Linked DNA regions of Homo sapiens. Changing the gene in region 4 together with the main gene of any one other region gives a genetic interaction. Each region holds a gene or a part of one and is shown on either strand. Other genes may lie near its edges.

Region 1 (3,848 bases), on a different chromosome or scaffold from region 4:
CGTTCCCCTGCAGGGCTTCAATATCACCTCCTATCTCAAGGGGGTAAATCTTGAAGTCGTCAACATTTGTTAATAAAACGGAGTCAGCAGTGCAGTTGCTATGGCCACCAATGGGTCACAACCAAAGGCTACGACCCAAAAAAATTACACACGTCGTTTACTGGTGGTCTTCAACCTATTCAAAAAATTAGGCAAATGTTTAAATTATCGCTTAAATAACCGAAGACACATACTCCCAATTCAAAGTGGATGTGCTGGTCTATGAAGGATGCTGCTGAGATCTGGGACCAGCGGGGCCCCACAGTCACTCATCCCACCACCCCCAGCTGCAAGAGAAGCACAGCCTGGGAATGTCCCTTGGACGTCCCCCAAAGAGTCCACACTCAACTCCTGCAGAGGTCTGGGGACAGCGGCCCTGTGTGTGCCTTGGGTGGCTGGACAAGAACAGGAACTGACCACAGCCAACACGTCCACTCCCGCACCCAGGAGAAGGGAAAACCCATGGTCAGATGCAAACAGCAGCTTTCACCCCGTGTGCAACCCACACTCTGCCTCAGCACACGAGGCCCACACGGAGGGCTCAGCCCCTCCCCAGAAAGCACCAGGTACCTTTCCTCAGACCCAAGATCCACATGGTGTCCAGCGCGTCGATCAGTGTGAGACCGAGGCCAAACCACTCACTGAAGGACCTGGACACAGGCTTCAGCTCGTCATGGCCCCATGCAAACTTGCGGTATCCTTTCCATGCATGCAGGAAGACGTCAATCACGCCCTTCTGGCGATAGTTCAGATGCACTAGTAGGGGGGAGAGAGCACAGGCCATGGCGGACGTGGTCCTGGCGTCGGCACAGATGGACACCCTCAGGCAGAGCACTGCTGTGACCCCCATGGGGCAAAGATGACGGTGGGTTTGGGACGACGGGAAGGGCGGTGGTGGGCACAGCAAAGGCCAGGGCCACAGAGGCTGCAGCAGCCCCCAGGGAGAACACAGCCTGCCAAGGGCCTGAGACCTCTGGAGACTGCACAGGATGGCACCTGTCACCCGACCACCTGACTGGGGCCCATGCACCTCCACCTGGCGCCTGGGCAGGCACACCCTCCTTGGGCCTCGGTGGCCTCTGGCCAAAGGGACAAGGGTGGCTGCCCCAAGGGCGCTGGGACAGCACAGTGAGCACAGCCTGTGGAGACGTGGGTGAGTGTGGTGCCAACTCAGAATGTGAAACACGGACGGGTGCAGACCTCGCGATGAACATCCTCGACTCAAACACGCTCCTTCTGCCACGTGGGCTTCAGGTGCTCCACGGGAATCGCACTGTGCACACGCGCTACAGTCCCTTCGTTCCCTTTTTTTAAATTTTTTTGGCTGGGCACGGTGGCTCCCGCCTGTAATCCCAGTACTCTGGGAGGCCGAGGTGGGCAGATCACCTGAGGTCAGAAGTTTGAGACCAGCCTCGCCAACATCGCGAAACCCCGTCTCTACTAAAAATACAAAAATTAGCCAGGTGTGGTGGCGGGTGCCTATAATCCCAGCTACTAGGGAGGCTGAGGCAGGAGACTTGCTTGAACCCAGAAGGCAGACGTTGCAGTGAAGTGACAAAGCAAGACTCTGTCTCAAATATACACATATATATAAATTTCTTTTTTTTTTGTAGAGATGGGGCCTCACTGTGTTGTCCAGGCTGGTCTTGAACTCCTGGACTCAAGAGATCCTTCTACCTCAGCCTCCCAAAGTGCTGGGATTACAAGTGTGAGCCACCACGCCCGGCCAACATTGACTAATGTGTGGATTGACACGTGTGTAACGGCACCAAACCACACGTCCTCTCAGGAAAGGTTCTGAGGCCTCCTTGTGCTCATGGCATGTCTATGCCTCTGCCTCTGCCTCTGCCCTCATTGATGCCGCAGAGATTGCTACACATCCCTCACAGGCCCGGGGCTGGGAGTCCTGGCTCTGGGCTCCCTCCCCACCTCAGAGACACCTGGGGGGCATGATGAGAGCAGGGCTCCAGACTCAGCGACCTGCCATGAGCCCCCACAGACAAGCAAACGACTCTGGGGGTGGCTGTCCTCAGCCCTGCTTTTCAGTCTGGAGAACGGGAGGGTGAGTGGCTTATCGTGTCAGAGGGTGTCATGAGGTTGAAAGAGGCCTCAGGTCATGCACTGAGCTTGGCCGAAGGCCCGCACCTGGGAGGCCCCCAACAAACGGTGCTGAGAATGAAGTGGCCCCCAGAGCTGCCTGGGACTGGCCAGGCCGAGACAGGGGACACAGCACGGGCAGCAGTCTCCAGGGATCCCGTGGGGCAGCCTGGCCCAGACACAAACCTCTCAGACACACCTTCTTCTGCAGCCATGTGCTCAGGGACAGCAGGCCAAGAGCCACATGGTGTCACCAAGGTTGCAGAGCCTGTGAGGACTCAGACAACAGGGGGATGCTGAAGGGCAAGGTGCACACCAGGGCGGGGGCGCCACCCACCATGGCTGAGACGAAGCCTGCACCCATCAGCCACCAGCCCCTGAGCGCCCGGGGAGGAAGGGGTGCAGGTGTGGCCTCACCTGGTGTGCCCTGTGTCCTGGCCGGTGGCAGGGGAGGCTTGGTGGGCACTTCTGCTCTTCTTGAAGGGAGCTCGGTGCCCTGCTCAGGCTCGATCACCGCTCCCCTCCAGCTTCGGGGGAGAAGGAAGGGTGTCAGCTGCCGTCAAACATTTGTGGCTCCATGTTTCCCACCCCCACGCTCCATACCCACGGCCAAGGCACAGCCCTGCACCCAAAGCGGCCCCATCATCCTGAGGTGCAGGCTGCTGAGTGGCAGGAAACACACAGTTCAGTCCTGAGCTCCCGTGCCTGAGAGCCAAGACCACAGCACTGCTCCAGGGTCAAGGCTGGCCTGAGGTCAGAGACCAGAGCTTGGAGAATCGTGAGAAATCCCTCTGCAGAGGCCGGAGGCGGGGGGCCTCTATGGTGGAGGAGTAGAGAATCTTTCATCCAAACAGGAGCACTAGTGACAGTGAGGTGGCCCCAAGATGCCAGGATGGCCACACAGACGGGGGCTGTCCCTACACACGAGACGCATGGCCACTCAAACTCCCCATCGAGTTCTGTCCAATGGCCATCAGGAACAGCTATGAGGTTGTGTAGAGGGTTTGCCGCGCAACCTCCTAACTGTGGCTGGGCCCGAGCGTTCTCTTGGGGCCCTGTGGTGAATCTGTCCCAGGATCAGCAAAAGGCCTCTTACAACCACAGATGGCTTACATGCTGGGAGTACAAACGTGGCACTTTTGACAAGCTGAGGTCAAATCCTCTTTTGCTCTGGAAGTAAAGCGTCCTTGCATTCATGCCAACGCTAACTAGAGCACAGTGGCCCTCAAATTCTCCTCCTGGCCGTGAGGACCCCTCACATGCACATGTCCACGCCTCTCACCACGCGCTTGAGTTCAGGGCCTCTGGGCCCGTTTCTTCGGAGCCCATCTCTCACGGCGGACAGCGCTTGTCTCAGGCCACTCCTGCACAGCAGCCCTCACTGGCCCTGGCTCTGCCCACACTTTGTAGAAGAGAGAGGACGTCTGCGGGGAACCCTTCCTTCCGCCTCAACCACAATCAACTCCGTTTCTAAGAGCGTAACATGGAGCCGGAAACGAGGCAGAGACGCCTCCAGCACCGAAGCTCCACTGGGATCCACTACCTGGACTTGACGAACCGGGCAGAGGACAGCACTCTGGGAGCCTGGGCACCGGGCAACTCCCTCTCCCTCTGCTCTCTGCTCGACCAGATGGGGCTCGGGAAAGGAGGTGGCCCAGGCAGCCAGCGTCCACCTCTGAGCCTGGCTCCCCATCCCCACGCACCTGTGCACC
Region 2 (3,853 bases), on a different chromosome or scaffold from region 4:
CTCATCTCATGGAACCATAGAGGGATCTAAGAAAAGGCTACTCCAATCTAAAGGACTATTTTCAAGCAAAAATAGAGGAATTCTGTGTATCATCAATGAAAGAAGTTTAGGGGAAGGGTATAGTACATATTACAATAATTTAAAATCATACGCACATTTCACTTTCCATGCACGATGATTTTAACATGAAACAATGTAACTATACATCACTGAAAATACAATCAAGCTTTGCCCCAGAACTTACAGCCACTCTCTATAGTCAGTTAAGAAAAACCCTGGAAGAATATATGATAAATGTATTCAGATTCTATTAGTTTTATTTGTAAGCAGATTCTAAACAAAGAGGATGAATTTGGGCACATATACACATGCACAAATGAAATGGTTCAACATCTAAATGATATGACACAAAATTACCACTATGAGAATCAAGAGGCTACTCTTATGCAAGCAACAAACTTTTACTTATGATTTCAAACATACAGTTTAATTTTCTGTTAAAACTGTTTTAAAAAACAGTACTAGGGTTCAGTTTTCTAGTCTCGGCATGAACTAATGCCAGGGACCTATTTGAATTAGGAAAGAGACAAAATGGTGTGATTCGTGCTTCATTACATCATGGTTTGTTGAGGGTTAGGTGAATATCTTCCATTTCAAGACTTTTTATTTAGGCCAGGCGCGGTGGCTCACACCTGTAATCCCACCACTTTAGGAGGTTGAGGCGGGCAGATTACGAGGTCAGGAGATTGAGACCATCCTGGCTAACACGGTGAAACCCCATCTCTACTAAAAATACAAAACATTAGCCGGGCGTAGTGGCAGGCGCCTGCAGTCCCAGCTACTTGTGAGGCTGAGGCAGGACAACCGGCGTGAACCCAGGAGGCAGAGGTTGCAGTGAGCCGAGATCGCGCCACTGCACTCCAGCCTGGACGACAAAGTGAGACTCTGTCTAAAAAAAAAAAAAAAAAAAAAAAAAAGACTTTGTATTCAAATAAAGCACAAATTGTGACAGAAATCCTCTAGGCTGTGTCATCAGTTAAGACAAGCCATACGATACCATAGAAAATACATATAATTTATTAGATGGGCTTAAAATCAACACAAATCCATTTTTAGGCACTTCTTGAGTACAGACTATGGGAATTTTCTACCAAAGAACAGGATATCTAGCAAGCAACAGCATAAAGATTTAAACTTTAGTTTTCAGAACAATACACAAGGGCTAGACATTGATAAGAAATACTGCATAACTAATCCAAGTGTATCCTGGAACATTTCTTCACAATCTGACAGGACTTTAGGGTTAACTAGAAAGTTACTTTTTAGCATCCAAAATTGTAATTTCTGGCTTTCTTTCCTTTTTACTCTATTATCATGGTCTTAAAATAATCTATCGCACATTCTTTGAGGGAGCATGATATACAAGTTTTATTTTTGTGTAAGTGGAGCTTCAAAGACATATTTCTCTATCTGCATTTACAGTCAATGCATGACAAGTGATTATTTCGATGTCTTTAAAGCCCATTTCAACAGGTTTATTTTTTAAGGATAGGCTTTTCATTACTAACTCCTTTAGACATCTAATGTTTATCTCTGTTTTGTAAGTAAACATGAAAAAAAAAATGGGATGTGGGCAATAGTTTCAAGAATGCCCTTAGATTATAGACTACATATAAATTTGGTTTGGCATCTTTTTCCAAATCAAACTGAACTGGTATTCTGTGAAACATAACCATTCTTGGTAGTGGGAAGATAATACACATAAAACTTAATCCTGCCCATGCCTAACTAGTAGCTCACGGAAGTGGTAGAGTCTGGGTATTTCTCCTATCTTTCTGAATCTACTTCCCAACATGTGAAGTTAAATTAAGAAGCATGAAAATGTTAAATATAATTTAAAGAATTCTAATATTGGCATCTATATGCTATACACACTGCAAGCTGGTCTTCTGATGGACTCCACATCTCTGATAATGCTCTCTAATGAGCAAAGTCCAAATCACTACCTCAAGCCAGTGGTGAGAAGATAGCAAGGAACTAGAAAAGCTACATAGAAACCACTGGTTTGGAAACCATTGTCTATAACAATAGTTACAAAGAAAGTTTAGAATAACCTCCAGGACAGAGATCTCTTCACTAATAGTAAATGAAGATACAGGAGAGCAAAGGATACCTGAGCTATGGGGAAGCTGACCTTGAAAGCAATGAGGTCCAGATTACATTTGGAGAGTGGGAGAGGTCAAAGTTACGAGGAGAAACTTGTCTCTACCCAGCCTTGAAAAAGTGATTGATGACAACATACAACTGGGCAGTTGAGAGAAGACTGGAGTTTGGAGATAACCGATGATGTGGTATTATCTCCTGTATACAAAGCAGAGCCTATTACACGTACATTCCCAAAAATGCCTCCAGAGAAAACTAGAAAGTTGTCTATAGATTTTCTATTTACACTAATATAAACAGGTTTGGAGGTTGTCTGTACTGTATGTGGTTGCTGTAGTGACAAGAAATGTAAAGTGCCTATACAAGAGGGAACAATAGAGTCCTATTTCTAGGCATCTTAATACTATATGCTGAGACAAAAAGGAAAACAATGTCAGGGACTTCATGCCTTTGCTCAAGCTCTGTGCATTTCTCTGGGTCTCAAATGACCTACTAGGCACTTTTTAAAGGCCAGAAAATAAAAACTCTTCTTCCCTCTATTTCATCCCATGCTTCTAAAGTCACTTTCACTGCCTATATTAAAAATGCCAGCCATCAGTGCTAAAGCACTTTTATATTCTTAAGGCAAAATGTCACATAAGAAAATGAATCCCCTATCCACTTCCCCACTATAACCCCTATACAACCTGCCTTCGTTGTATCCTTTGCCCATTATGAGGACCAAGAGGTACTGGGAAGATAAAGAGAACTGAAAATTTCAAACAAGAACCCTCTATATAATGTGTAAGATGTACTTTTACAGATGCTATTATGATAAAATTAAACATATTCAAATGCTTATAGCATATGGTTACTTTTGCCCAGATATCAAAAGAAGTTACATGACTTTCAAAATTAGTATCAAAAACAGGATATTTAAATCCAGCCACATGTACAGAACTATGAATCTTTGTTCTTCTCAGAGCTGAACACAATGACTCCACGAGATGTTTTCACTCAGAAGTGGCATATTAAAAACCCAAAAGCATCTCCCTCTGCTTAATTCCACTTAAACTACATAAAAATTGCCAATATGACTTTTCACCAGCTTCTCCATTTTATTTGAAAATAATACTTTTAAAATGATTTTGACATTTTCATATATAAATTTATTTTTTTCCCAACTATAATTTTGGTTTTATGTACAAGTACACAAGTACCACCTTATTTTTAATGTTTACCTTGAAGGGTAGAAAACAAAATCATGTTTTATAAATGTGGTATAAAATTACACATCTTCTCATGATGTCATGTCAATAATCCACTACACTAAACCAACTGTAACAAGGTAGTACATGCTTTAAACATCCAATTAAGAATAAATCTGAGCCAACACCTTGATGATGACAAGGGAATGTGCTGATATCGTGTTAAACTGATGTGGCAGTAATCCAAGGGACTAAGCACATGATTATTCAAATTAAAACATAAAAAGGACAAAAGGTGTGGATTTTCTGGGCTACATCACATAATATTTGTCTGGCGAAACCATAATACAGATTTGGGTAAAGGAGATTTTTAATAGATAACAAGTAATTCTTTATAGGGATTTGAGAAAGTACGAGAACATATGGGAAAAGCTTAGTAATTTAAGATTTACTTTTGTAAAACCATGTGGACAAATATTAAATGTTATGCTTGCATTTTGAAC
Region 3 (4,290 bases), on a different chromosome or scaffold from region 4:
GCTAAAGGGTCAGAATCCAAGTCTTCTGCCTTCCCTTCAGAGGCAGTTTATGCACAGGATGCCCCTATCATCCTTTCACATGAAATCCCATGCCTGCCCCTATACTAACAAGCCAATATTGATCTTCTTACATAAAAACAACTAAAGACAATTTAAAAAAATTTAAACCACCTACATTAGCATAGAATTCATCATTTTCAGCAGATAGGACCACTTCTCTTAAGTCTTTACTGATTCCCGGCACTCTGGAAAGATCAATCCGATTGTTGTTTATGCCTAGTAGTTCGTGGACCATGGCCTGATATGTCCACTAAATAAAGAATTATGAAAAAAAAAGGTAACTGACAGAATATGGAAATAGTAAACGTTCAGGAAAACAAATAAAAACTGATAACATTCTTTAACTAGTCTTCTTTACATGAAGATTCTCGAGTTAAATTTTATTCATACTTTGTGCTATAAGCATTAAGACTGTCATTTTAATTGATTAAACACTGAAGAAAAGTCAAAATACTTTTAGATTTCATACTTTTGGAAAAAGGGCAGCAAGATTAATATTCTTGATAGAAAGAAAACAAATTAGAGCTATTATTAGCTCCAATTTTTTGCCTGTGAATTAAGAGTATATTTTTGGCTTCACAGATAGAGCTATATTGGTACTGCAGTTACAAGCTGTACCATTTCCTGTATGCTTCTATGGTTTTCTGCAGCATGAGAAGTGTGTTCTTGCAGATCTGAGTGGTACTATATTTGTCCTGGGAACACTAATATTATCAGAAAAACCTTGTGAGTTGATCAAAACACTGGGATATTCAGAAACTTACCTTTGAACCCATTTTATTTTATATTTTTACCTAAGGGGAGATGAGAGGAAGGACTGGTTTCCAGTCTCACAAATTGAGAATTTATTTGGTAAAACTGGAAATGAGAAATCTCCAAATTTTCCCTTTTCACCAATTATGGAGAATAGATTACTTTCAGTCATAGGTCTGTTAGACAAAATGAAGTATTTTCTAGCATGTTCCCTTCTGCATCTAGAATCTAAATGCTAGAAATATTTATATACATATTTTATCTTAAGAAAACTAGATTTATTAAGAAATAATTTAGAAGGTTATAAAAGAAGGTGCTTATTTCCTAAAAGATTTGCCAAAGGAATTCTTGAAAAAGCAAGTTCCATTAAGTCGCACTTAAAATAAGTACAACAAGGCTGGGCATGGTGGCTCATGCCTGTAATCCCAGCACTTTGGGAGGCTGAGGTGGGTGGATCACTTAAGGTCGGGAGTTCGAGACCGGCCTGACCAACATGGTGAAACCCCATCTCTACTAAAAATACAAAACTAGCCGAGCATGGTGGCACATGCCTGTAATCCAAGCTACTCAGGAGGCTGAGGCAGGGAATCACTTGAACCCAGGAGGCGGAGGTTGTAGTGAGCCAAGATCACACCATTGCACTCCAGCCTGGACAATAAGAGCAAAACTCCATCTCAAAAAAAAAAAAACGTACAACAAAATGTTTTATGCTTTTATGGATAGCTTCTTGTACATGCTTCTAGCACTTACTCTACAATTAAAATTATGTTTATTTTTCTCATAATTGGACCATGAGCTCTTTGAGGACAGAAATTGTAACTTTTAACCTTTTATCTCTAGTACTTAGTTTAGTACGTGGCACAAAAGAAGTCCCCAGTGAAATCTGTGGGATAAATAGTTGCTTTTCTTTGGGAGACAGAATAATAGGCAATTAATTTTCTTTCTACTTTTTGATATTATCAAAAGTTTCTTTGGTGAACATATATTACTTTGAATTTTAGGAATACAAGGCTATTTTATACTACAGAGAAGTTTCACTCCACAGATTTCCCTTAGCATTAACATTAGTACAAGCTGGGAAGAAACTGAAACATAGACTGTGCCTTTCTCTGTAAATACAAAGTCACAGCCGGGCGTGGTGGCTCACGCCTGTCATCTTAGCACTTTGGGAGGCCGAGTCGGGCAGATCACTTGAGGTCAGGAATTCGAGACCAGCCTGGCCAATATTTAGACAGAAACCTTGTCTGTACTAAAAATATTTAATACAAAAATTAGCCAGGTGTGGGGGTGTGCACCTGTGATCCCAACTACTCAGGAAGCTGGGGCATGAGAATTGCTTGAACCTGGGAGGCGGAGGTTGCAGTGAGCTGAGATCACGCCAATCTGGGTGACAGAGAGAGACTCTGTCTCAATAAATACATACACACATACAAAATCACTATTAATAGAGCACCCGCTATGTGCACTGTTCTTATACTTGAAGGAGAAAAAACACTGGTGAGACTCAGTCTGCCTTGAAGAAATATGTAACGTAGGAGAGGATGTAAACAACCAAAGCTACAACATGGCAAGTACAGCATGAGACATGAGAGAGACACAAAGGTCTACAAGTCTACAGGGATTTTCAGGAGATAAGAACAATATCTGACTGAAAGAATACAGGCTTCGAGATGTTGAAGAATGGCTGGATGTTGGAGATGGCTTTTGAGTGTTTTTTTTTTTTTTTGAGACAAGAGTTTCGCTCTCGTTGCCCAGGCTGGAGGACAGTGGCATGATCTCGGTTCACTGCAACCTCTGCCTCCCAGGTTCAAGTGATTCTCCTGCCTCAGCATCCTGAGTAGCTGGGATTACAGGCATCTGCCACCACGTCCAGCTAATTTTTTGTATTTTTAGTAGAGACAGGGTTTCATCATGTTGGCCAGGCTGGTCTCAAACTCAGGACCTCAGGTGATCTACCCACCTCGACCTCCCAAAGTGCTGGGATTATAGGTGTGAGTCACCGCGCCCGGCTCTTCTTTTTTTTATTCTTTGCTATTATTCATATAAATCATTTTATTTATTTATTTATTTATTTTTGGAGACGGAGTCTTGCTCTGTCGCCCTGGCTGGAGTGCAGTGGCATGATCTCAGCTTACTGCAACCTTCGCCTCCTGGGTTCAAATGATTCTCCTGCCTCAGCCTCCCAAGTAGCTGGGACTACAGGTGTGTGCAACCACACCCGGCTAATTTTTTTGTAGTTTTAGTAGAGACGGGGCTTCACCATGTTGGCCAGGTTAGTCTTGAACTCTTGACCTCAGGTGATCCAGCCACCTTGGCCTCCCAAAGTGCTGGGATTACAGGCGTGAGCGACCGTGCCCGGCCAGATTGAGTGGTTTTAACAGCAGTATTTTGATAGGTGAAGATGGGAAGAGAAGGTATTCCAAACATTCTAGAGTTTAGAAAGCAGTCACAGTAAAAGCATGCTGGCAGGAAACCATGTGGCATTATCTATGTAAGTGGTGAACTCTAGGTTTTATAAGAGGTTTAGCCCACATTGTGAAGGCTCTTGGATGCCAAGTTCAGGAGTTTCTTTTTAACCTAGTAGGCAAATGGGAACCAATGAAGTTTTTTAAGCCAAGAGTAATAAGATAGAGCTGTGCTTTAGGAAATTGTACTTGTGGAACATTTGGAGTGAGAAGAAATAAAAAGTAGGGAACGAAGTAGATGACTATTTCAATATTCTTGCAAGAGATTAGGATCTAGACCAAGGCAATGGCTGTAAGCATGGAAATGAGGAGACAGAAGGAAACACAGGGAAATAGAATCTACAGAATTAAGAAGCTGTCTTGATTAGGGGTGGAGGTACTGGCAGAAAGGTACAGGAGAGATGAAGCAGAAGAGTTATGATGACAGTGGATGGAAGAATCATGATACCAAAACACCAGGAAATACAAAGCAAAACCAAGAATAGCTAAAAATAAGGAGGCAAATAAATGGACCATGTTTTTACTTCCCTATCTGTATTTTGATGAATATCACTTAAAATTATCCTTCTATTATGCCAAGAAAGGGTTTTGTACCTGGTTTAGCAATGGGGTGATGGCATCATCACAGCGATCTAAAATAAGGAGCAATGGAGGAACCTCTGTCCGACGGAATTCAAACAGTTCATATTCTTTAGTTATCACTTGCTGTGGGTGAGAGAGAAAGATGGTTTGTGCAACCATCTAGTTACATATAGAAATGATATAAATAGGAAATTAATAAACACTACATTTAACAATAGTTCTTTGCACCCACATAGATCTTCCATATGAAGGATTCAAAAGTCTCACAAAGTTTAGTAGCATACTATTTAAGAGGTTAGGATATGAAACCCTATTTTATAAGTGGTTTAACTGGACCAAAAAAAGTTAAATAGCTTGTGAATGTTTCTTGGGTTAAACCTAAGAATCTTAGCTCTAATTGTTGCTTTTTGTTTTAAATTACATATACCTA
Region 4 (4,290 bases):
AATTAGGAATCAAGAACAATATATAATTAAATAATCACATGAATTTAAAGCTGAACCTCATACCTGTGAGAAGAGGAGAATGTGGCACAAGATTTCATATCCAAGGATGGATCAGAGAGGTCTAATTCAAATATCTCAAGGGAAGCATTCGTACTAAATGTTGCATCCAATTGCTGAGCAGATGTTCCTATAGAAAATATATTTATGGTAACTATACACACAAAAATAAAAGATCAGAGAAACCATACAAAACAGAAGTTAAAAGCATGTTTTCCATTCTCTTGCTCATGAATGCTGCACATATGCCATTGAGCAGATGCTTAAATTACTATAGCAATGAGATTCTGGCACAGGGCTAGGAGAGGATGTTTATAAGAGTGGGTAGTGTAAATAATTTTTTAAGCCTGTATATATTTAAAAATCTCTGTAAAAATGGTCCCGTGATGGGGGCTGGGCACGGTGGCTCATGCCTGTAATCCCAGCACTTTGGGAGGCCGAGATGGGTGGATCATGAGGTCAGGAGATCAAGACCATCCTGGCTAACATGGTGAAATCCCATCTCTACTAAAAATACAAAAAATTAGCCAGGCATGGTGGTGGACGCCTGTAGTCCCAGCTACTTGGGAGGCTGAGGCAGGAGAATGGAAGGAACCAGGGAGGTGGAGCTTGCAGTGAGCAGAGATCACGCCACTGCATTCCAGGCTGGGCGAAAGAGCAAGACTCCATCTCAAAAAAAAAAAAGTCCCGTGATTTACTATATCTGCTTATAGACATATATGATATAACTATTTCTTTTTATATAAAAATGCTAACATCAAAATTGCTCTTCATTCATTCAAACTGATATTAACTGTTTTTTTTACATGCCATCTATTGTGCTTAATACTGGAGGAATAAAGATAAAATACAATTCCTGTGAAGGAAAATATTTTAGATGTAACACATCATGATCAAAATGCTATGGGAACACAGAGGAAGAACACTAAACTTGGCTGATAGAATGTCAGTAACTTGCCAGGGAGAGAGAGGCTTTCTAGAGAAGATAAAGCTTAAACTGAATAAGCTAGGTGCAGAAGAGAAGAAATTAGGTAACTCATACTATCTTCTCTCCTTTGAACTTACCTGTTGCTAGGTAAATGGGGTGATTCTGGGCAGGGCTCCATGCCTGCATGGCTGTACGATCTACTTCCTTTAACTTCATCCTGCTAAAGGGAATATTTTATACAGAAACAGCCTTGAATGACTTGAATGTCTAACACAGAACACAGATATTTTAAATAGAAACATACTGAACAAACCACTACAACATTAGTAATGCCCAACTGCAAATAAATCAAATCGGTTTAGGTGTCATTTGTTGGATATATTCATTAGAAAGAAGACAAACTTGAGGCCGGGTGGCTCATGCCTGTAATCCCAGCACTTTGGGAGGCCAAGGCGGGCGGATCACGAGGTCAGGAGATTGAGACCATCCTGGCTAACATGGTGAGACCCCATCTCTACTAAAAATACAAAAAATTAGCCGGGCGTGGTGGCGGGCACCTGTAGTCCCAGCTACTCAGGAGGCTGAGGCAGGAGAATGGCATGACCCGGAAGACAGAGCTTGCAGTGAGTTGAGATTGCACCACTGCATGCCAACCTGGGCGAGAGAGCAAGACTCTATCTCAAAAAAAAAAAAAAAAAAAAAAAAAAAAAAAGACAAACTTGATAAACCATTTTGAGACAAATACTGGGCTATTCTGTTTACAGATTATAGTTCTTCAGTTGAATCAGTCTAGAAAAATAGCCCACAAAAATAATAAGGTAGTACCTGAAGAATTAACTTTGCTACACATGTGTTTATCCAACTAGGATGGATGACAAAACATTACGGGTAAGAGCAGCCAAAAAATAAATAAGGTGCAACTTCCTGGAGTAGGATTACTCAATGATAAGAGCAGTTTAAAAAATTAATTCAAAGTTACAACATATTAGAGAGAATATAGTAAGCCCACAGATTTTAAAGATAAAGTAGAAATTATTAGAAAACTGGTCACTTCAAGGTATAATCCCATATACCACTTGTTTACGTATTTTCTGTCATTAAAGTTACTTTGATGGAGTCAGGCATGGTGGCTCATGCTTGCAATCGCAGCACTTTGGGAGGACGAGGCAGTTGGATCACTTGAGGCCAGGAGTTCGAGACCAGCCTCGCCAACATGGCAAAACCCCGTCTCTATTAAAAATACAAGAAAATTAGCCAGGTGTGGTGGTGCATGCCTGTAATCCCAGCTATTTGGGAGGCTGAAGCAGAAGAATCACTTGAACCCAGGTGGTGAAGGTTACATTGAGCCGAGATCATGCCACTGCACTCCAGCCTGGGCAACAGAGCGAGACTCGGTCTCAAAAAAAAAGTTACTTTGATGGAAAAATTACAACGGTATAGTATTATGTACTTTTTAAAGATCTTTGTTATTTTTACATAAATATATTGAAATGGCATAGTACTGCACTATAAGATGTACCATAATTACCTAGTCTAATACCAACAAACACCTAAGCTGTTTTTAGCTATTTTTACAAAAAAGTGCTGAAATAAATGGTCATCTGCACGTTATTTCATTAAAAAGGGACAGCTATAAATTTCCAGAAGTAAAATTGCTAAGTTAAAAGGTTAATGCAATTTTAATTTTGATGAATATTACCAAGTTGTCCTCTATGGCAATTGTGCCTTTTCATACCACCAACAGTAATATACGATTACTTATTGCCCTACAGCCTTATCAGAGCATACTGTCACACTTTTAGATCATACCAACACTAAAAAATGAAAGGCCAGGTGCAGTGGCTCAGGCCTGTAAGCCCAGCACTTTAGGAGCCGAAGCAAGTGGATTGCTTGAGCCCAGGAGTTCAAGATCAGCTTGGACAACATGGTGAAATCCCATCTCTAGAAAAAATACAAAAATTAGCTGGGCATGGTGGTGCACGCCTGTAGTCCCAGCTACTCGGGAGGTTGAGGAGGAAGGATTGTTTGAGCCCGGGAAGTTGAGGCTGCAGTGAGCCGTGATTGCGCCACTGCAATCCAGCCTGGGCGACAGAGTGAGACCATGACTCAAAAAAAAAAAAGAGAAAAATAAAAATGTTAGCTCTGTATAGTAATACTATAAATGATGTATAACATCTTTTTTTTGTATGACTATGGGTAAACATATTTCCTTTTCTGTCATCTCTTCTGTCTAGTCATGTATTATTTGACCATTTTTCTTTTCTATTCTTTTTTTTTTTTTTTTGGAGATGGAGTTTCGTTCTGTCACCCAGGCTGGAGCACAGTGGGGCGATCTCGGCTCACTGCAACGTCTGCCTCCGGGTTCAAGCGATTCTGGTGTCTCAGCCTCCCAAGTAACTGGGATTACAGGCACACACCACCACATCAGGCTAATTTTTTTGTATTTTTAGTAGAGACGGGGTTTCACCATGTTGGCCAGGCTGGCCTCGAACTCCTGACCTCAGGTGATCCACCTTCCTCAGCCTCCCAAAGTGCTGGGATTACAGGGGTGAGCCACTGCGCCCGGCCATCATTCGACAATTTTTCTATTAAGTTGATAGACTATCTTTTGACTTTGCTTTTTTCAAAAAAAAAATTTCTTTTCACCTTTCATAGGATTTTGATTAAAAATAAAAAAAGCTATATGCTTTATCTTTTAGAGTTTTACGTTCCTAGAAAAGTTGAGCCACAAAGTACAAAAAATTGCTACACATTTCCCAACCACATAACCTTTCTCACCACCAACATCGCACATCATAAAGGTCTATTTGTTTCGATCCATAAACTAACATGAACACATCATTATCACTGAAACTCCACAATTTATATGAGGGCTCACTCTAGGTGTTGTATATTCTATGGGTTTTGACAAATGTATAACAACATGTATCTGTCATTATAGTATCACACAGAGTAGTTCCCTTGTCCTAAAATCCCCTATGCCTATAATTCCTCCTTTCCTTTCAATAGAGCCTATATAGTGAATTTTTGTGAATTGTTCTTGGGACCTAGAAAGAAGGGGTGCTCTCTGTTTTCAGGGCCTAGAGCTCAATATATATTAACTAAGTCCTCTTTATTGATTTGTTTAGATCTCCTATATCCTTACTTTTTTGTCCACTTGATCTGCCTTGGACCGAAACAGTGAATTAAGTCTCTTACTGCTAATATATTTATGTCAATTTCTCATGGTATCTCCTGAAACTTTTGCTTTATGAAAATTACTTTGTTATTTAATAGTTATTTGGTGCATATCCATAATGTTCAAA
Region 5 (4,290 bases), on a different chromosome or scaffold from region 4:
AAATGCAGCTCGGAAAATGAGAACTGAAAAATATTTTTCTATTTAATAACCAGGAAGCCATTTGTGGCCTTATTTATTTATTTATTTATTTTGAGATGAATTCTTGCTCTGTCGCCCAGGCTGCAGTGCAATGTCATGATCTCGGCTCACTGCAACCTCCACCTCTCGGGTTCAAGTGATTCTCCTGCTGAGAATCACTCAGGAGGCTGAGGCCTCCTGAGTAGCTGGGATTACAGGCGCACGCCACCACACCCGGCTAATTTTTGTATTTTTAGTAGAGACAAGGTTTCACCATGTTGGCCAGGCTGGTCTTGAACTCCGGACCTTGTGATCCACCCGCCTTGACCTCCCAAAGTGCTGGGATTACAGGCATGAGCCACCACGCCCAGCCTTGTGGCCTTATTAAGGACAATTTTGGGATGTGTGGGTAAAGAAGCTAAATTAGAAAGTTAGAGGCAAGAATGAATGCAGATGAGTGCTTCCCACCCAACCAGCAGCTTCAGAATCAGAGGAACCTGCTATAATAATGGTACAAATTGAGATCCCAGGTCCCACCTTTGTAAAATCCTATTTCATAGGATTCAAAAGGATCCCAGAATCTGCATTAGTAAAAAATCTCATGTGGCCGGGTGCGGTGGCTCACACCTGTAATCTCAGCACTTTGGCTCAGGCGGGCAGATCACCTGAGGTCAGGATTTTGAGACCAGCCTGGCCAAAAAGCTGTACGTTTCTTTAGGAAAGCCTGGGCCAGGCGTAGTGGTTCACACCTGTAATCCCAGCACTTTGGGAGGCCAAGGTGGGAGGATCACGAGGTCAGGAGTTCGAGACCAGCCTGGCCAAATGGTGAAACCCATCTCTACTAAAGACACAAAAAAATTAGACAAGCATGGTGACGCACACCTGTAATCCCAGCTACTTCAGGGGCTGAAGCAGGAGGATTGCTTGAACCATGGAGGTTAAGGCTGCAGTGAGCCAAGACTGCACCACTGTACTCTAGCCTGGGGGACAAAGTGAGACCATTTCTGAAAAACCAAAACAAAACAAAACAAAACTGCAGTTTCTAACTGGCTTTGCAAGTTGATTCAGTCAATAAAGGCACTAATTAATGGTGGGAGTCATTATTTGCCTTTAGCGTTAATACATGATAATCAGATTAAGATCCATTAGTTTAAGGTCTTGTAGTCTGCTATCAATTTTTGCAAAGGAAATATGTATACACAAAGACTTAGAAAAACCTCTCAGCTGGGCGCAGTGGCTCACGCCTGTAATCCCAGCACTTTGGGAGGCCAAGGCAGGCAGATCACGAGGTCAGGAAATTGAGACCACCCTGTCCAACATGGTGAAACCCCGTCTCTACTAAATATACAAAAATTAGCTGAGCATGGTGGTGCACGCCTGTAGTCCCAGCTACTCGGGAGGCTGAGGCAGGAGAATCACTTGAACCCGGGAGGCAGAGGCTGCAGTGAGCCAAGATCTGCACCACTGCACTCCAGCCTGGGTGACAGCGTGAGACTCCGTCTCAAAAAATATATATATATATTTTTTTTTTTTGAAAAAGGCTACTGTTAGGTCTTTTGTTTTTTATTAATTTATTTATTTTTGTGACAGGTTCTCACTCTGTTGCCCAGGCTAGAGGGTAGTGGCATGATCATGGCTCATTGCAGCCTTAACCTCCTGGACACAGGTGATCCTCCTACCTCAGCCTCCTGAGTAGCTGGGACCACAGGCTGGCACCACTACACTGGACTAATTTTTCTTACTTTTTTATAGATATGGGGTCTTCCTATGTTGCCTACCCTGGTCTGAACTCCTAGGCTCAAGCAGCCCTCCTGCCTTGGCCTCCCAAAGTGCTGGGATTACAGGTGTGAGCCACTGCACCCGGCCTATTTATTTATTTTTGAGACAAGATACTGCCATGTCACCCAGGTTGTAGTGCAGTTGTGCAATTGTAGCTCACTGCAGTCTTGACCTCCTGGGGTCAAGTGATCTTCCTGTCTCAGCCTCCCCAGTAGCTGGGACTACTGGGCCCGCACCATGCCTATTTTTTAAAAATTCTTTGTAGAGACAGGTTCTCACTATGTTGCCGAGGGTGGTCTTGAATTCTTGGGCTAAAACAATCCTAGCACCTCGGCCTCCCAAAGTGCTGACATTACAGGTGTGAGCCACCACACCTGGTGAGGTCTTTTGACTATAATATATAAAATATCTGTGCTAGATGTTGTGGCTCATGCCTGTAATCCTAGCTCTTTGGGAGGCCAAGGCAGGAGGATTACTTGAGTCCAGGAGTTCAAGACCATCCTGGGCAACAGAGTGCAGCTCTGTTTTCTAAAAAAAACTGTTTAGTTAGCCAGGTTTCAGGGCATGTGCCTGTAGTCCTAGCTTCACAGGAGGCTGACGTGGGAGGATCACTTCAGCCAGGAGGTTCGAGGCTGCAGTGAGCCATGATCAAGTGACTACACTTCAACTTGGGTGACAGAGCAAGACCCAGGCTCTTTAAAAAACAAACAAACAAACGAAACTGGAACGGGTATGGTGGCTCACACCTGTAATGCCAGCACTTTGGGAGGCTGAGGCAGGAGGATCATGAGGTCAGCAGATAGAGGCCATCCTGGCCAACATGGTGAAACCCCGTCTCCACTAAAAATACAAAAATTAGGCCGAGCACAGTGGCTCATAACTGTAATCCCAGCACTTTGGGAGGCAGAGGCGGGCAGATCACGAGGTCAGGAGATTGAGACCATCCTAGCTAATATGGTGAAACGCTGTCTCTACTAAAAAAAAAAAAAAAATACAAAAAATTAGCCGGGTGTGGTGGCGGGCACCTATTGTCCCAGCTACTCGGGAGGCTGAGGCAAGAGAATGGCATGAACCCAGGAGGCGGAGCTTGCAGCGAGCCAAGATCGCACCACTGCACTCCAGCATGGGTGACAGAGTGAGACTCCGTCTCAAAAAAACAAAAACAAAAACAAAACAAAACAAACAAACAAAATACAAAATCAGCCAGGCATGGTGGCATGTGCTACAGGTGCCTGTAACCCCAGCTACTCGGGAAGCTGAGGCAGGAGAATCGCTTGAACCTGGGAGGTGGAGGTTGCAGTGAGCTGAGATCGCACCACTGCACTCCAGCCTGGCAACACAGCAAGACTCCGTCTCAAAAACAAAAAACACCAAACTGGCCAGGCACAGTGGCTCACGCCTGTAATCCCGGCACTTTAGTAGGCCGAGGTGGGCGGATCACCTGAGCTCGGGAGTTCGAGACCAGCCTGGGCAACGTGGCGAAACCCCGTCTCTACTAAATATACAAAAATTAGCTAGACATAGTGGCGCATGCCTGTAGTCCCAGTTGCTCAGGAGGCTGAGGCAGAATTGCTTGAACCCAGGAGATGGAGGTTGCAGTGAGCCAAGATCACGCCACTGCACTCCAGCCTGGGCAATAGAGAAAGACTATCTCAAAAACAAAAAACAAAAGCAAACTGAAGATCTAATTATACTGTAATATGTAATTTAAGCAAACTTCATTAAATACTTAAGACTTTTCGGCCAGGCGCGGTGGCTCACGCCTGTAATCCCAGCACTTTGGGAGGCCGACGCGGGCGGATCACCTGAGGTCAGGAGTTTGAGACCAGCCTGACCAATGTGATGAAACCCTGTCTCTACTAAAAATACAAAAATTAGCCGGGTGTGGTGGCATGCACCTGTAATCCCAGTTGCTCAGGAGGCTGAGGCAGGAGAATTGCTTGAATCTGGGAGGCAGAGGTTGCAATGAGCCATTGCACTCTAGCCTGGGCAACAAAAGTGAAACTCCATCAAAAAAAAAAAAAAAAAGAGTTTTCAACAGAATATGCAAGCATCAACTACTGCTTTGGAATAGTTAAGCAAAACTAGATCCCAGCATTGAAACGTTTTCTCACCTTCTTGAAAAATATCCTGTTCTCCAACTTGATACCATATCCCTACTCTCTGTATTATTAGCAGGATGAACAATAAAACAACCCAGGCTAGGCTTGGTAGCTCATGCCTCTAATCCCAGCACTTTGGAAGGCTGAGTCAGGAGGATCACTTGAGGTCAGGAATTTCAGACCAGCCTAGGCAACATAGAGAGACTCATCTCTACAAAATATATATAAAACATTATATATATAATATACATATATCTTTACATTAGGCCGGGCGTGGTGGCTCATGCCTGTAATCCCAGCACTTTGGGATGCCAGGGTGGGCGGATCATTATGAGGTTTGGAGTTCAAGACCAGCCTGGCCAACATGGTGAAACCCCATCTCTACTAAAAA
Region 6 (3,869 bases), on a different chromosome or scaffold from region 4:
GCCAAGCTAAGGATTTACACACAAACACACACCTTTTCTTCCCTAAATTTAAAGGGTCCCATTAACGTCTAAGAGTATGTGTGTGTATGTATATATATGTAATTTTTTCTTTTTTGAGACAGGGTCTCACTTTATCACCCAAGCTGGGGTGCAGTGGCGCGATCTAGTCTCACTGCAACCTCTGCCTCCCGGGTTCAAGTGACTTCTGCTTCAGCCTCCTGAGTAGCTAGGATTACAGGCATGCACCACACCGCCCCCACCCCGCTAATTTTGTATTTTTAGTAGAAATGGGGTCTCACCATGTTGGCCAGGCTGGTTTCAAACTCCTAGCCTCAAGTGATCCACCCGCCTCAGCCTCCCAAAGTGCTGGGATGACAGCCATGAGCCACTGTACCCGGCGTTAAATATTTCTTAAACTCCACTGAAACCCATCCCCAGTCAAGCCTACTGCCGTGACAAGGGGCAGGACTGCTGAGGTTGCTCGCTCGCCCTCAGCCAGCGAGTTAAAGGGCCAACTAATGCCAGCTCTTTCCTCTGCGTGCCACAGGGTGGTGAGGTCGAAGCTGCACCGGACCTCACGGCAGCACAGAGCCAAGGAGCCAGGGGCCTTTGGCTTTCAGAGAAGAGAGAAGCAGGAGGCCCTGGAGAGAGTGTCCTCAGCTTCGGTACCGACGCCCTACCATTACCGGTGGGAGCCCAGAGAGTGAGGCCAGGGGCCGGCACTGGGCAGGGAGGCAGGATCCAGAGGACACTGCTTCACTCAGACCAACAGGGAGCCAGGCCCTGCAGGGGCTTTATTTTGACACCACTTTGTTTCAATACAAACAGTCCAGAAAGAAAGTCAAGTCCCTCTGGGGGAGGGGCAAGGGGAAGAGTGGTCTGTGTTGCTTGGGAGCCCAACCTACAACCCAAAGGTGGGGGCTGGGCTGAGACTGCCGGTGCGGCAGGGGAAGATGGCACCAAGAATGACAGTGCTTGGCTCAGCTGCCAGAGGGTGAGGCCCACAGCTCTCACTGGCGGGTGCTGTCCAGGCCAAGCCCAGAATGATGCAGAGGAAGGAGCTCAGCCCCAGGAGCCTGCCTCTGCCTCTCACATCCTCTGCTTCCCTGGCCAGCATCAAGCTCACAGCATCCAGAGTCGAATCACAGCAGACAAGACCCTCCATGGCCACCAACCCGGGGAAGAAGGGATAAAGAATGTCACAGAGGGTCCTGCATTCCACAGCAGATGGTACAGAGGGACCCTGAGACACCCTGAAACAATCTTCCAAGTGCTTACTGTAGAAAGGGGTGGTGAGACGGGAGAACCCAAGGGTCTCCGGTCTGATCCCAAATGAAACCTTTAGGTACCAGGTAAAGTTTCCAGCCCTTGGTAACGCCCAGACAAAGGTCCTTCCCCTCTCCTGGCACCCAGAAGAGGCCACTGGCAGCAGCAGCAGCAGCAAGTCCGCAGCCTCTTTCCCCATGGGACGGGTCTACAGTGAACTCCTTCCAGGCCTCCCCCTGGTTCCAGAGGATGGGGACCCAAGGCCTCGAACTAGAAGAACCCTAGAGCCAGCAAAAAAAGCCTTCTACCTTCCGCTTTCCCTACCTGGGGAAAGTCTGGACCCAGAATAAGCCATCGTGGGGGAACCCCCTTTCCCAGTATGGCAGGATAAGTGAGCAGCAGCTGTGGGGGCAGGACAGAAGGACAAGAGTCTAACACACGGAGGGTGGTGTGAGAGGGAATAAAGGGCTCAGTCCACAGGCAGAGGACAAGGGCTGGTACTGACCATTCCCCTCACAGGAGTGAGCGCCTCAAAGGCCACCCCACACACACACCACACATACGAAGTAACAAATCCTCCCCAGCTTCCACAAGGCAAAGCATCCCCAGCCTGGGAACTGTGGAGTTCTTGTTGCCGTCACCATCGTAAGCCTGAGTCACAGAGCTCGGATCAGTAGGAACCGTAGCGATCCTGGGGGCGAGGGGGGAGAAAAAAAAAAAAAAAGTCAGAGGCTCTAAGCTGCAGCAGCTTCCCAGCAAACACACTGCCTGCCCCAGCACCCCACAGCAAGACTGGGGAGGCAGGGGCTGGACAGCCCGGTGAGGCAGGAGTCCACGGTGAGAGCTGGGGCAGCGGCCACTCGGGCACCCGACAACAGGGAAGCCCTGCCTGGCCTCACAGAAGCTGGGAAGAGAAGAGAAAGAGCGGTACAGGTGACAAGGCCAGGGAAGATCATGGCAGACACAGAGGCATCTTGGAGAGGCCCGGCCCTGGCACGGAGCTGAAAGGAAGGAAGCTGCCCTCCAAGAAAATGCCTCTCTCTAGACTCTTGCTTTTTCGTTTGTGGTTTTTTTTTTGAGACAAGAGTTTCACTCCTGTCACCCAGACTGGAGTGCAGTGGCATGATCTCAGCTCACTACAACCTCCAGGTTCAAGCGATTCTCCTGCCTCAGCATCCCGAGTAGCGGGATTACAGGTGCACGCCATCATGCCCAGCTAATTTTGTATTTTTAGTAGAGACGGGGTTTTGCCATGTTGGTCAGGCTGGTCTCAAACTCCTGACCTCAAGTGATCCACCCATCTCAGCCTCCCAGTGCTGGGATTACAGGCGTGAGCCACCACACCCGGCCGAAAATGCTCTTAAGGCTCAGAGGGGCTGAGCAGTAGCAGTGTCTCTATGTGGTGGCGAAGGGCAAACCTCCCAGCACTCCTCATTAGGCCCCACTTCAGCCTCACCTGCAAGGAATTCATCACACCATTGGCCAGCACAGCCATTTTCCCAGCCACAGACTTGACACCCTGCTTAAACTGGGCAATGTCCGCTGTAGGCAGCACGTTCCCCAGAGATACACTTCCTGTAAAACAAGAGCAGGGTGACCCAGAGCCCAGCAAGAAGCCCTTCCCAGTCACAGCAGGGCCCTCCCGCCCTGCTCCCAGGCCTCACTTGGTGCCTGCCACCCCACCAGGGCCCTACCTGCTCCGTGAGCTCCATCCATGTCCCCAAAGAGGTCTGAAGAGCTGATGGCACTGCTGCCTGAGAGCTGCTGCAGCCGAGACCTGGCCTCATACTGTGGTGAGGAAAAGGCCAGGCCTGGGGATCTTGGGGCTGATGACCCAAGGACTCACACAGGCCAGGCCCTCCTGGTGCTAAAGCCCAAAGCAGCGGCAGGGAGAAAGCTCATGCTTCTGCCTGCTGCCTCGGACCTCAGGGCAGACAGCCCCACTTACCTCTGCATCCACCTCCCGCCCAAAGAACATGTCAGATGAGATGGCTTTGGCTCCTGCGAATTTCTGACGCGCCTCACTAGACTCGAGGCCTGAGCTCCGGCTCTCCACTTCCCTCCGGTTTGTGGCTCTGAGGGGAAGATGTGGAATATCTCGGACTCCTCCCATTATCATCAGGGGAGGCAGAGTACAGAGGCCAAACAGAGCACCAGTGGCCTTTTGGTGATGGGTTACCAGGTCCCATTCTGTCTGTGGCTCTGTGGCTCTGGGCCCCTCTCCCCTGGTGAGGAGTCACCCTTCTCCACATTGAGGCCAAGGCCCAGAGAGCTTAGGAACCTGCACTAGGCAGGGTGGAAATACAGCCTGCAGTGGCCTAGGCTCCTGCCCAAAAGCACACAGCTTCGTCAGCATTCAGGAGGCCACACAACTGCTGCTACCCTAATCCTAGTGACAACTTGCCTAGTACTACAATGAGCATATGTGTCGGTCTGCCTGGCTTTATACCTACTCTTGTCATAACTATGAATAGCAAACTGCCCCCTTTACTCTCAAAAGCATCCTGGTGTGGAAAGGGAGATGGTTGCTCTCATCTCACGCTGAGTATGTGGACACTGGGCCAGGTATTTCCGGAGACCCTATGAAGTAGTTACGTTCCCAT
Region 7 (4,776 bases), on a different chromosome or scaffold from region 4:
AGATCGAGACCATCCTGGCCAACACAGTGAAACCTTGTCTGTACTAAAAATACAAAAATTAGCTGGGTGTGGTGGCACATGCCTGTAATCCCACTACTCAGGAGGCTGAGGCAGGAGAATGGCTTGAACTAGAGAAGTGGAAATCGCAGTGAGCTGAGGTCCTGCCACTGCACTCCAGTCTAGTGTCAGAGGGAGACTCCATATAAAAAATACATATATATAATTTTAAGACAGGGTTGCACTCTGTTGACCAGGCTGGGGTGCAATGATTGGATCATAGCTCACTGAAGCCACAATCTCCCGGGCTGAAGCAATCCTCCTGCCTCAGCCTCCTGAGTAGCTAGGGTTACAGGCCTTCGCAAAACACCCAGCTATTTTTTTTTTTTTTTTAATTTTTAGTAGAGATGAGGTCTTGCTGTATTGCCCAAGCTGGCTCTACCTCCTCAGCTCAAGCAGTCCTCCCACCTCAGACTCCCAAAGTGCTGGGATAACAGGTGTGAGCCACTGTGCCCAGTCGTGACTTATTTTTTATTTTATTTATTTATTTATTTTTGAGACAGAGTCTCAAAAATGGGGTTTCGCCATGCTGGCCAGGCTGGTCTCAAACTCCTGACCTCAAGTGATCCTCCCACCTCAGCCTCCCAAAGTGCTGGGATTACAGGTGTGAGCCACTGTGCCCGGCCAGCAGTGAATTATTCATAAAGCAGGAGTGGAACCCCAGAACACTGAGACAAATCTACCTGGGTGCAAAGCAATTATCTCTCAACCAAACAACTGAGGAAAAAGTACTATCACCATCATTTCACCAGTAATAGTGGCTCACTCATTAGCAGTTTGAGGAGGTGTACATAAGGTTAGATGTCTGTGAGAATAAGATTGCAGGAAAATAGTGTAGTTGTGACACCTCCTACCACCACCACATACCTGGACATTTACTCTACTGTGAATTTCCAAGGTAGCACAGAAGCTGAGAAGTTCAGTTGCTTAAATTTCAAAACAGAATCCCCTAAATTCATCATCACTGACAGAATGAAGAATTTCACTATATTCCTGACATTGTTATTCCTGATATTGGTCATTTTACTTGTTTTCTAGTTGTTACAAAAGTTAAAAACAAACAAACAAACAAAAAAGCTTAGGCCAGGTGGGGTGGTTCACACTTATAATTCCCAGTACTTTGGGAGGCCAAGGAGGGGGAGAATCACCTGAGGCCAGGAGTTCAAGACCAGCCTGGCCAACATAGTGAGACAGCCCCCCCGACCCCCAACTATCTCAATTAAAAAAAAGAAGAAAAAAGAAAAAAGAGAAAAACTTACATGTGTTTTACTCATGCAGAGAAACAGGGAAATTTTTTAGAACTTACCCTCCATTACTTACAGGACAAACTTTAAACTCTTTTCCCATAGTAATTAAAGAAAATCTTACTAATTTAGTCACAGCCTTTCTCAGCACGATTTCCCAAACCCAGTTCCACAATTTAGGCAATGTCCTGTACTTTTTTGTACTTTCCTGCCTCAGTGCACTTTTACTTTGTGTTGTGCATTCTGGTGTGCCATTTCCTGGCCTCGTGGAATCTTATTCAAGAACAAAGTCAAATGTTATCTGCAATGTGAAGCCTGACTCCCAAAGGCAGTTACTAACTGGCAACTCTGAACTCTCCTAAAATGTTCATCTTCCTTATTTCTTGAGTGCAGAACTCTGCCTTATTCATTAGAGGCCTTAGAATCCCGTCCCTTAGCTGGTTCAATAATGTTTGAACGAATAAACCCTGTTCCATTCACTAGAAGGCTGGATTCTGGGTACAACGGTAGGGGTAGAAATGGATTAGAAAGTATAGAGCTAGAAACCTAAAACCAACAAGACAAAAGGAAAAATGTGAACCATATGAGCCACACTTTTTAAAAGTGTGCATTTGTGTATTAAGCAAGTGGCATGAATCCCTGGACTCGGTTGTGTTATTTGATGGGTTGCCTCTCCCTGTTAACCGCATAGTGATCATTTGATTGCTCTAATATCATTCATTTTGGCTTTAATATTTCAAAGAAGCTCATTTGGACGAAACAGAAAACTTACCTTGAGTTATCTCCCATACAATGATTTCCAGTAAATTAATGAGCTTCCCTCCAACGTCACACACTCTTTCAAAAGGATAAATAAACCTAACACCATAATAGCTTAAATACACTACCTGAAAGAGTAACGATTCCTCTGGGTTGAGGCTGAAACCGCAAATATTTGTTACAAAAGTCGGCAGATTCAAGGGCCAAAAACAAAACATTGCCCAAAAAGTAACCCGCTGTTTGGCCCACCGAATTGCAAGTAGAAGCATAACCCACATTTTCCCTGGATAACATAGTTAACGCCCAACCATCGACGGCAATGTCCTGAGTGGCGGCCAAGAATTCAAACAAAAAGAACGCCACAGTGAGAGCAATCACGTCGGGTGTTCTGTCATCGGTATTCCCAAGCAAACGGTCCACCTGAGTGGATAAATAGATCATGAAGAGTCCTAGTATATACTGTGTCGGGACAAGCCAAGATTTGCGACGACCGAAGTTCTTAACGTAGACCGCATCAACCAACGGGGCCCAGAGTAATTTGAGACTGAAGGGCCAAAAGACAAAACTGAAGAAAGCTTGGTCTGTATAGCTAACATTTTTGCTTTGCAAAATGAGTGGGATGCTTCCCGCCAAGCCCAGGGGAATACCCTGAAGCACGTAAAGAAAGAGTAGTAGCAAAATGCTGCTTAGTTCGGCCCGGAAGCTCTGTGGGGCTTTTAAGAAGTCGCCAGTGCCGGTATCCCCCAGAAGAGCTTCTCTGTCCCCTTCCCGGCCCGCTGAGTCCAAATGACTGTCATCCCAACCGCCTGGCGGCAGGGGACCGCTCTTCATATCCAGAGAGTGACTGAAATTCCCTGGCCGCCGTTGCCGGCTGCTGTCCTTGTGGGAGATGGTGGGTGACATATCAGAGACGATGCAGAGCCCCGTCTGTGGGGGGCCGAGGCTGAGCGTTTTGGATCCGTCCAGTCCCAGGTCCAAGGCTGTCGCGCTGGACCAGGGTTTCGGTGGTTCACGGGATGGTGGCAGGGCTCAGAGCGATAAGGGCACTTCTTACTGCAGCCCGGAGTGCTGAAGCCGGGAGCCAGTCCTCTGGCTAGAGGCCCAGAGGATGCCTGGATAGGTGCCCCCTGGAACGGCGTCAAAGAGCCTGAAGGAGACCCCCGGGCAGCAGCGCCGGGCTCGAGGCTGGAGGTGTGTGCCGTGGTGCCAGGATGGAAACCAGCTCCTACCTGCGGCGGGATCGAACGGCTGGTCTCCCGACCCAACACCTCCAGCTCTCGCTGCTATCAATGCGGCAGAGAGCACTTTCTCTACAGGACTCCAGAAAAAGCATATAACTTCCTGCCTCGCGCTTCAGGAAGTGGTCCCAGTCTCTAACAGGTCCCTTCCCAGCCTCCAGAGCAAGCCAATCAGGGACACGCTCTCGTGGCCCAGTTCGGAAACAATGCTTGGTGGGAACCTGCAATCTTGGCTGCCGGAACCTTCGGGGAGGATTAACGCCGGCGCACCGTGCGGCCGGGGCGGGGCGCCGCCCAAACTCAGGCCCTGTGACAGCGACTGTGGCGGTCTGGAAAGCGTGGGCCTCGGTCATTGGGCACGAGCGGTCACGTGACAGCGGGTTCCTCCAGGCCAGCGCTGGTGGTTGAGTGATGTAATCACGTGGGGTCTGAAGTCTTCGTGGGTGTAGGTTTCTTCGTTATGCTGACGACAGGCAGTGCCCGAACTCTAGGCTGGGAGTTGTGCCATGCTGCTGCTTTCGTGGGCTGACCAGAAAAGGGTAGAAGGATTGACGTTTACGAAGTTTTTGAATCAGGAGGCAAGGTCGCCTTGTGCCCCCAAAAGGATAGAAAAAGGCCTGGCAAACTGGAGAATCGCGTCCTTACGGTGCCTACATATTTATAGTACGAATTAAACTGCTCAAGGGGTGCTAGGTTTGTCTGCAGTCCGTTTCTCCCTCATGGTGGAAGACGCGTGGGGAAACTTGGTAACCAACTCTAATTACATTGGTGATTGGAAGACTCGTTACATCCTGTTTTTATGTTGCAATAAAACGTCTTGTGGCCGGGCGCGGTGGCTCACGCCTGTAATCCCAGCACTTTGGAAGGCCGAGGCGGGCGGATCACCTGAGATTGGGAGTTCAAGATCAGCCTGACCAACAAGGAGAAACCCGTCTCTACTAAGAGACGTACAGGAATTTGAGAATCTGATTAATTTTTTTTCTGCTCTCTCACCTCTGGCAGAAAGATTATTATTTTTTTTTCTTTTGAGAGGAATCTCACACTGTCGCCTGGGCTGGTGTTCAGTAGGGCCATCTCGGCTCGCTGCAGCCTCCACCTCCCGGGTTCAAGCGATTCTCCTGCCTCAGCCTCCCGAGTAGCTGGGACTACAGGCACGCGCCACCACGCCCGGCTAATTTTTGTATTTTTAGTAGAGACGGGGTTTCACTATGTTGGCCAGGCTGGTCTCGAACTCCTGACCTCGTGATCCGCCTGCCTCGGCCTCCCAAAGTGCTGGGATTACAAACGTAATGGCAGGCTAGGCACAGTGGCTCACGCCTATAATCCCAGAACTTTGGGAGGCCGAGGCGGGTGGATCACGAGGTCAAGAGATTGAGACCATCCTGGCCAACACGGTGAAACCCCGTCTCTACTAAAAATACAAAAAATTAGCTCGGCCTGGTGGCGCGCGCCTGTAGCCCCAGCTACTTGGGAGGCTG

The links.
Region 1: changes in SEC31A (region 4) and MAN1B1 together harm fitness less than expected from each alone (positive genetic interaction), as found in Homo sapiens cells (one large-scale study listed by BioGRID).
Region 2: changes in SEC31A (region 4) and ARL5A together harm fitness more than expected from each alone (negative genetic interaction), as found in Homo sapiens cells (one large-scale study listed by BioGRID).
Region 3: changes in SEC31A (region 4) and VPS45 together harm fitness less than expected from each alone (positive genetic interaction), as found in Homo sapiens cells (one large-scale study listed by BioGRID).
Region 5: changes in SEC31A (region 4) and SEC24A together harm fitness less than expected from each alone (positive genetic interaction), as found in Homo sapiens cells (one large-scale study listed by BioGRID).
Region 6: changes in SEC31A (region 4) and ARFGAP2 together harm fitness less than expected from each alone (positive genetic interaction), as found in Homo sapiens cells (one large-scale study listed by BioGRID).
Region 7: changes in SEC31A (region 4) and SLC33A1 together harm fitness less than expected from each alone (positive genetic interaction), as found in Homo sapiens cells (one large-scale study listed by BioGRID).

Annotation. Positions count from the first base shown.
Region 1 is NC_000009.12:137,096,643-137,100,490, reverse strand, and holds part of MAN1B1 (endoplasmic reticulum mannosyl-oligosaccharide 1,2-alpha-mannosidase), read right to left. Parts: intron 2,664-3,848; coding exon 2,554-2,663; intron 796-2,553; coding exon 610-795; intron 1-609. UniProt on the Homo sapiens protein: Involved in glycoprotein quality control targeting of misfolded glycoproteins for degradation.
Region 2 is NC_000002.12:151,797,743-151,801,595, forward strand, and holds the end of ARL5A (ADP-ribosylation factor-like protein 5A), read right to left. Parts: 3' UTR 1,055-3,853; downstream 1-1,054. UniProt on the Homo sapiens protein: Lacks ADP-ribosylation enhancing activity.
Region 3 is NC_000001.11:150,077,362-150,081,651, reverse strand, and holds part of VPS45 (vacuolar protein sorting-associated protein 45), read right to left. Parts: intron 3,984-4,290; coding exon 3,873-3,983; intron 311-3,872; coding exon 176-310; intron 1-175. UniProt on the Homo sapiens protein: May play a role in vesicle-mediated protein trafficking from the Golgi stack through the trans-Golgi network.
Region 4 is NC_000004.12:82,880,736-82,885,025, forward strand, and holds part of SEC31A (protein transport protein Sec31A), read right to left. Parts: intron 1,206-4,290; 5' UTR 1,202-1,205; coding exon 1,123-1,201; intron 188-1,122; coding exon 64-187; intron 1-63. UniProt on the Homo sapiens protein: Component of the coat protein complex II (COPII) which promotes the formation of transport vesicles from the endoplasmic reticulum (ER).
Region 5 is NC_000005.10:134,651,470-134,655,759, reverse strand, and holds part of SEC24A (protein transport protein Sec24A), read right to left. Parts: intron 1-4,290. UniProt on the Homo sapiens protein: Component of the coat protein complex II (COPII) which promotes the formation of transport vesicles from the endoplasmic reticulum (ER).
Region 6 is NC_000011.10:47,163,546-47,167,414, forward strand, and holds the end of ARFGAP2 (ADP-ribosylation factor GTPase-activating protein 2), read right to left. Parts: intron 3,342-3,869; coding exon 3,215-3,341; intron 3,055-3,214; coding exon 2,961-3,054; intron 2,842-2,960; coding exon 2,723-2,841; intron 1,958-2,722; coding exon 1,937-1,957; 3' UTR 756-1,936; downstream 1-755.
Region 7 is NC_000003.12:155,851,035-155,855,810, forward strand, and holds the start of SLC33A1 (acetyl-coenzyme A transporter 1), read right to left. Parts: upstream 3,394-4,776; 5' UTR 2,964-3,393; coding exon 2,189-2,963; coding exon of another isoform or gene 2,074-2,188; intron 1-2,073. UniProt on the Homo sapiens protein: Acetyl-CoA transporter that mediates active acetyl-CoA import through the endoplasmic reticulum (ER) membrane into the ER lumen where specific ER-based acetyl-CoA:lysine acetyltransferases are responsible for the acetylation of ER-based protein substrates, such as BACE1.